Homo sapiens: one gene and its partner. The protein of the gene in region 2 interacts with the protein of the main gene of each other region in a biochemical or structural test. Each region holds a gene or a part of one and is shown on either strand. Other genes may lie near its edges.

The links. Proteins that work in one complex are often made in the same cells at the same time.
Region 1: the proteins of RAB11FIP3 (region 2) and ARF4 form a complex in vitro, tested with the Homo sapiens proteins (one study listed by IntAct).

Annotation. Positions count from the first base shown.
Region 1 is NC_000003.12:57,590,708-57,594,454, forward strand, and holds part of ARF4 (ADP-ribosylation factor 4), read right to left. Parts: intron 1-3,747.
Region 2 is NC_000016.10:477,641-481,387, reverse strand, and holds part of RAB11FIP3 (rab11 family-interacting protein 3), read right to left. Parts: exon of another isoform or gene 3,732-3,747; intron 1-3,731. UniProt on the Homo sapiens protein: Downstream effector molecule for Rab11 GTPase which is involved in endocytic trafficking, cytokinesis and intracellular ciliogenesis by participating in membrane delivery. Recruited by Rab11 to endosomes where it links Rab11 to dynein motor complex.

The sequences.
Region 1 (3,747 bases), on a different chromosome or scaffold from region 2:
TCGATCTGTCACCCAGCCTGGAGTGCAGTGGTGCAAACATGGCTCACTGTAGCCTCAAACTCCTGGGCTCCAGCAATCCTCCCACCTCAGCCTCCCTAGTAGCTGGGTCTACAGGGGCACGCCACCATGCCCAGCTAATTTTTAAAATTTTTTTGTAGAGATGAGGTCTTGCCATGGTATGGTGCCCAGGCTGCGTAATAGTTTAAAATAATAATTTAAAATTGAATATTTACTGCATTCTAAGCATAGTAGGTGATTCTATACATTTTTGGACTTTAATTCTCACAATAACCTTTCATTTTTCAGATGAGACATTTAATGTCCAGAAATGTCCCCCACAGTCACAGAAACAGAAGAACAGATATTTAAAAACCTGAGTCTTGCAGAAAAATTAGAACCCTCATATATTGCTAGTGGGGATGTAAACGAGGATGTAAAATGGAAATGTTTGTCAGGTCCTCAAAATGTTCAAGACGGTTACCATGACACAATTCCGCTCCTAAGTATTTATCAGAGAATTTAAAACACATGCCCACACAAAAACTTGTTCATGAATGTTGAAGAGCTAGAAAGTGAAAACAACCTAATTTTTATCATCTGATGAATGGATAAATAAAATGTGGTTTATCCATACAATGTAATTACTATTTGGCCATCAAAAGAAATGAGGTGCTTATGTGAATTTAATGAAAAGGAAAAAAAAAAGAATGAAGTACTAATATACGCTATAATATGAATGAACTTTTTTCTTCTCTTTTCTTTTCTTTTTTTTTTTTTGAGACAGAGTCTCACTCTGTCACCTAGGCTGGAGTGCAATGGCACGATCTCAGCTCACTGCAACCTCCACCTCCCGGGTTCAAGGGATTCTCGTGCCTCGGCCTCCTGAGTTGCTGGGACTACAGGTATCTGCCACCACACCCGGCTAATTTTTGTATTTTGAGTATAGATGGGGTTTCACTATGTTGTCCAGGCTGGTCTCGAACTCCTGACCTCGTGATCTGCCCGCCTCAGCCTCCCAAAGTGCTGGGATTACAGGCGTGAGCCACCGCGCCCGGCCATTATGAATGAACTTTGACAACATCATGCCAAGTGAAAAAAGCCAGACAAAGAGGCCATAAATCATGATTCCATTAAATGAAGTGTCCGGAATAGATTAACCCATAGAAACAGAAAACAGATTACGGGCTGGGAAGAAAGGGGAATGGGAATTATTACTAATGGGTATCAGGTTTCTTTGAGGGATGATGAAAAATTCTGGAATTAGACAATGGTGATGGTTACACAACTTTGAATACATATACTAAAACCCACGGAACTGTACACTTTAACAGGGTAAACTTTATGGTCTATGTATTATATCTTGATTTTTTTATTAAAAAATTTTCTAAAAAGCCAAAACCAAAAAACCTAGTTCTGATGCCAGAGACCTCAAATACTATTTACATGCTGCCATCCTGCCTTTAGGTTTTTCTGGTGGACATACTGTATCTTAATATTTTGGCCAGGCACGGTGACTCATGCCTGTAATCGCAGCACTTTGGGAGAATGAGGCAGGTGGATCACCTGAGGTCAGGAGTTTGAGACCAGCTTGACCAATATGGTGAAACCCTCTCTACTACAAATATGAAAATTAGCCGGGCATGGTGGGAGGGGGCCTGTAATCCCAGCTACTGGAGAGACTGAGGCAGAAGGATTGCTTGAACCCAGGAGGCGGAGGTTGCAGTGACCTGAGATTGCACCACTGTACTCGAGCCTGGGTGACACAGTGAGACTCCATCTCAAATATTTTTTATCAAATTCATCAGATGCTTGACCAACCAAACTGAAACTCAGGCCACCAGTTATACGGAAAAATGTGAACTTAGGTTCTGCTTCTACACACGGATGAGAAACATCTACATTTTTATCAGTTAATTAGCAGCAAATTATCAAAGTTTCCGACAGCCTATTGCACTACTATAATAATGCAAAAGGGTGCATCTAAGGATGGCTGTACCTATCAGCCAGTGGCATGAAACAGGATTTTTGCCTTTTCTGTTTCCTATATTCACATAATCAGAAGAGCCTGTTTTTTTAAAGGCTGGCAGTTATATGTTCAACCAATAACCTGAGAAAATGCTTGTAATAAGCTAAATCAAAAAGAGAGGACACAAAACTAAACATCACAACTACAATTTTAGAGGAACAAAAACTTCCTCTTAAAAGGCTGAGCGTGTACCAGGTGTGGTGGCTTACACCTGTCATCCTAGCACTTTGGGAGGTCGAGGCAGGAGGACCTCTTGAGCCCAGGAGTTTGAGATCAGCTGGGCAACAGAGCAAGACCCCCATTCTCTACAAAATAATTTAAAAATTAGCCGGGCATAGTGGCGCCTGTAGTCCTAGCTACTCCAGAGCCTAAGGCAGGAGGGATTGCTTGAATCCAGGAGTTCAAGGCTACAGTGAGCTATGATCATGCCACCTGTATGTGCCCCAGAGTATGGGTGACAGAGCAAAACCCTGTCTCAAAAAATAAAAATAAAAATAAGGCTGAGAGTAAATATGACAGAATAGTGGAATTACAGATAGGTAATTATCACTTTATTCTTTTACCTGTTTTCTAAATGTAACAGAAGGAACACATACTACTTTTAGAATCAAGAGGAAAAACATAAAAAAATTACATAAATAGATGGATTTACAAAATATGCTAAGAAACAAATATAAAACACCACTCTTTAGCTTGGTAATATTTTTTAAAGTGACAAATATAGGATCCTTTCTCCTGAACATCTCTAGACCCCCAAAACCACAGTCACATTCAAGACAATACAGAACTACACTGGCATACTACACTACACTGATATCAGCAAACTTTTTAAAAGTAACACTTTTTCAGCTTTTCAACAGGCAAGAACTGGAAAGTTCAAAGTAAAGAGATCAGAATTAGTAATTCCTCTGCAGAACACATTAGTATTTTTGGATATATACATAATTTAAGGATTCACTTAACAACATTACATCTTATCATGGATCAAGATACAGAAACCAGACTTAAAATAGGACAATGCAGCCAGGCTCAGTGGCTCGCCCTGTAACCCTAGCACTTTTCGAGGCCGAGGTGGGCGGGATCGCTTCAGCCCAAGAACAGGCAAGATAGTGAGACCTTCTTGCTACAAAAAATGTCAAAAATTAGCCAGGCAGGTCTAATGGCATGTCCTTGTTGTCTCAGCTACTCAAAAGGAAAAAAAACATAATTATTTAAAAAATATATACAAAATACAGAAGCTGGCTGGGTGTGATGGCTCATGCTTGTAATCCTAGCACTTTGGGAGGCCAAGGCAGGTGGATCACCTGAGGTCAGGAGTTCGAGACTAGCCTGGCCAACATGGTGAAACCCCGTCTCTACTAAAAATACAAACATTAGCTGGGCTTGGTGGCGGGCGCTTGTAATCCCAGCTACTGAGGAGGCAGAGGTTGCAGTGAGCCTAGATCATGCCATTGCACTCTGGCCTGGGAGACAAGAGTGAAACTCCATCTCAAAAAAAATAAACAAAATAAAATACAGACGCTATTGCTTTATTTTTATTTTTTTCAAATAGATACGGGGTCTTGCTATGTTGACCAGGCTGGCCTCAATGTGATCCTCCCAACCTGGCCTCCCAAAGTGCTGGGATAATAGGCGTGAGCCACCACACCTGGCCAGAAGCTATTGCTTCCTAACTCGAGCAGTATGGGCAATATCATCACTTGCATAACTTACCCTTATAA
Region 2 (3,747 bases):
AAGCATGTACCATCATGCCTAGCTAAGTTTTGTATTTCTAGTAGAGACGGGGTTTCACCATGTTGGCCAGGCTGGTCTCAAACTCCTTACCTCAGGTGATCCACCCACCTCAGCCTTCCAAAGTGCTGGGATTACAAGAGTGAGCCACAGCGCCAGCCAGGAGGACCATTTGAGCCCAAAAGGTCGAGGCTGCAGTGAGATGTGATCACACCACTGTGCTCCAACCTGAGTGATAAAGACCCATCTCAAAAAAATTAATTAATTAAAAATAAATATAACAGCTGGCCGCAATGGCTCACGACTGTAATCCCAGCACTTTGGGAGGCCGAGGCAGAAGGATCACCTGAGGTTGGGAGTTCGAGACCAGCCTGACCAATATGGAAAAACCCCGTCTCTACTGAAAATACAAAATTAGCCGGGTGTGGTGGCGAACTCCTGTATCCCAGCTACTCAGGAGGCTGAGGCAGGCAAATTGCTTGAACCAGGGAGGTGGATGTTGTGGTGAGCTGAGATCACTCCATTGCACTCGAGCCTGGGCAACAAGAGCAAAACTCTGTCTGAAAAAAAAAAAATTAAAATAAATAAATACAGGCCGGGCGCAGTGGCTCACGCCTGTAATCCCAGCACTTTGGGAAGCCAAGGCAGGCAGATCACAAGGTCAGGAGTTCGAGACCAGTCTGGCCAAAATGGTGAAACCCTGTCCCTACTAAAAATACAAAAATTAGCCAGGTGTGGTGGCGGGCACCTGTAGTCCCAGCTACTCGGGAGACTGAGGCAGAAGAATCGCTTGAACCCGGGAGGTGGAGGTTGCAGTGAATTGAGATCACGCCACTGCACTCCAGCCTGGGCGACAGAGCAAGACTCCGTCTCAAAAATAAATAAATAAATAAATATAATTAGCCAAGTGTGGTGGCACATGCCTGTAATCCCAACTACTCAGGAGGCTGAAGCAGGAGAATGGCTTGAACCTGGGACGCAGATTTTGCAGTGAGCTGATATCATGCCATTAAGCTCCAGCTTGGGCGACAGAGTGAGCCTCTATTTCAAAAATGAAAATAAAATGAATAAAACACAATTCAACTTTTTTTTTTTTTTTTTTTTGGAGAAGGAGTTTTACTCTTCCTGCCCAGGCTGGAGTGCAGTGGTGCAATCTCCAGTCACTGCAACCTACACCTCCCGGGTTCAAAAGATTCTCCTGCCTCAGGCTCCTGAGTAGCTGGGATTATAGATGCGTGCCACCACGCCACTAATTTTTGGGTTTTTAGTAGAGATGGGGTTTCACCACGTTGGCCAGGCCAGTCTCGAACTCCTAACCTCAGGTGATCCACCTGCCTCGGCCTCCCAAAGTGCTGGGATTACAGGCGTGAGCCACCGTGCCTGGCTGAATTCAACTTTTTTTTAAATGAAAAATAGGTACATGTCTGAGAGCAGAAAACAAGGTACTCTGAGTAATTTTTGTTGTTGTTGTTTGAGACAGTGTCTCTCTTTGAGACCCAGGCTGGAGTGCAATGGTGTAATCTCAGCTCACTGCAGCCTTGATCTCCTGGGCTCAAGTGATCCTCCCACCTCAGCCTCCTGAGTAGCTGAGACCACAGGTAAAAGCCACCATGCCTAATTTTTTGAAATTTTGTAGAAATGGAGTTTTGCCTTGTTTTCCAGGCTGTCTTGAACTCCTGTGCTCAAGTGATCCACCAGCCTTGGCCTCTCAAAGTGCTAGAACTATGGGTGTGAGCTACTGAGCCTGGCAGAGTAATTTCTTTTTTATTTTAATAAAATAGAGACAGGATCTAGCTGTAGCTGGGAACTACAGGTGCCACCACACCTGGCTCAGTTGTTTGTTTGTTTGTTGATTTATTTATTTTGAATCAGGGTCTCACTCTGTTGCCCAGGCTGGTCATCCACTCCGCACCTCAAGTGATCCTCCACACTGCTCAGATTACAGGTGTGAGCCATCGCAACCAATTGTTTTTACTGTTTTTACTGCTGTGTTTTTTTTGAGATAGAGTCTCACTGTGACACCCAGGTTGGAGTGCAGTCGTGCGGTCTTGGCTCACTGCAGCTTCAAACTCCTGGGCTCAAGCAATCCTCCTACCTCAGCCTCCTGAGTAGCTGGGACTATAGGTGTGAGCCACCACACCTCGCTGATTTTGTATTTTTTTGTAGAGATGGGGTTTTGCCATGTTGCTCAGGCTAGTCCCAAACTCCTGAGCTCAAGTGATCTGCCTGCCTTAGCCTCCCGAAGTGCTGGGATTATAGGCATAAGCCACCACACCCAACTTGTTTTTACTCTTAAGTATCTAGCATCTAGCATAGGACCAGGTATAGGTAGATAGTAAATATTTGTGGATCATACAAATGAACACAAAACTAAAGAACTATTAAACAGAACTTTTTTTTTCTTTTTCTAATTGTTCTTGTTTTTTGAGACAGGGTCTCACTCTGTCACCCAGGCTGGAGTGCAGTGGCACCATCTCAGCTCACTGCAACCTCTGCCTCCGGATTCAAGTGATTCTTGTGTCTCAGCCACCAAAGTAGCTGGGATTACAGGCATGCACCACTGTGCCCAGCTAATTTTTGTATTTTTTGTAGAGACGAGGTTTTGCTATGTTGCCCAGGCTGGTCTTGAACTCCTGGCCTCAAGAGATCTGCCCACCTCAGCCTCCCAAAGTGCTGGGATTATAGGCGTGAGCCACCGTGCCCAGCCAACATTTTCAATTTATAATTTCAACCTTAATGAAAATGAAATTGCTGGTTAGGAAAAGTGGCCAACATTTCATGCTCAGAAGACTCTGAGGTTAACAATTTGCAAATAAACAAGATCTCAGAAAAGCTGCAGTCCCAGCAGAAAAAGATGCCCTTTGCACTCTAGTTCTAGTATCGTAAGAAGCAGACAAAGTGGCTGGGCGCCGTGGTTAATGCCTGTAATCCCAGCACTTTGGAAGGCCGAGGCGGGTGGATCACAAGGTCAGGAGTTCGAGACCAGCCTAGCCAATATGGTGAAACCCCATCTCTACTGAAAATACAAAAATTAGCCAGGCGTGGTGGCACGTGCCTGCAGTCCCAGCTACTCGGGGGGCTGAGACAGGAGAATCGCTTGAACCCAGGAGGCAGAGGCTGCAGTGAGCCAAGATCATGCCACTGCACTCCAGCCTGGCAACAGAGCAAGACTCCATCTCAAAAAAAAAAAAAAAAGAAGTAGACAGTGTGCTAAGACCTGCGAGGGCTACCAGAGGGTCCCACCCCAGGCTGCACCCACCTGAGCCTCACTGGAAGAGACGTGAAGGGCCAGGCCGAGCTGCCAGGAGCCTGGCGCACTTGCGGGAGGCCGCAGTTCCATCTTTGGCCCCTTTATTAAAAGCCGTGTGACCTCAGACGTGTGACTCAACCACCTGGAGCCCTGCCGCAAACGGGGGTTATAAATTCTCGTCTCACAAGGTGGCCACCTCATGGAACCAAGAAAGACAACCCAGGAAGGTGCTTTTCAAAGCACAGAAACAAGGACTGCAGGGTGCGAGTGTCACTGGTGGGTGGGAAATCCCTGCCAGCTGCTTCTAAAGCCACAAGGGAACAGGGAGTGCTGTGAAGTGTACCTACTCTGGGTGTCCAATTATAATCTCCCCTACAATCTAAGGAAGTAATTCATAAAAACTAAGTCATTCCTCAAGAGCATCCACTGTAACATCCAGAACCAGGAGAGCACTGTAAGAAACCCCAGCTCTCGTGCTACTCACCGTCCCTGGGCAGCTC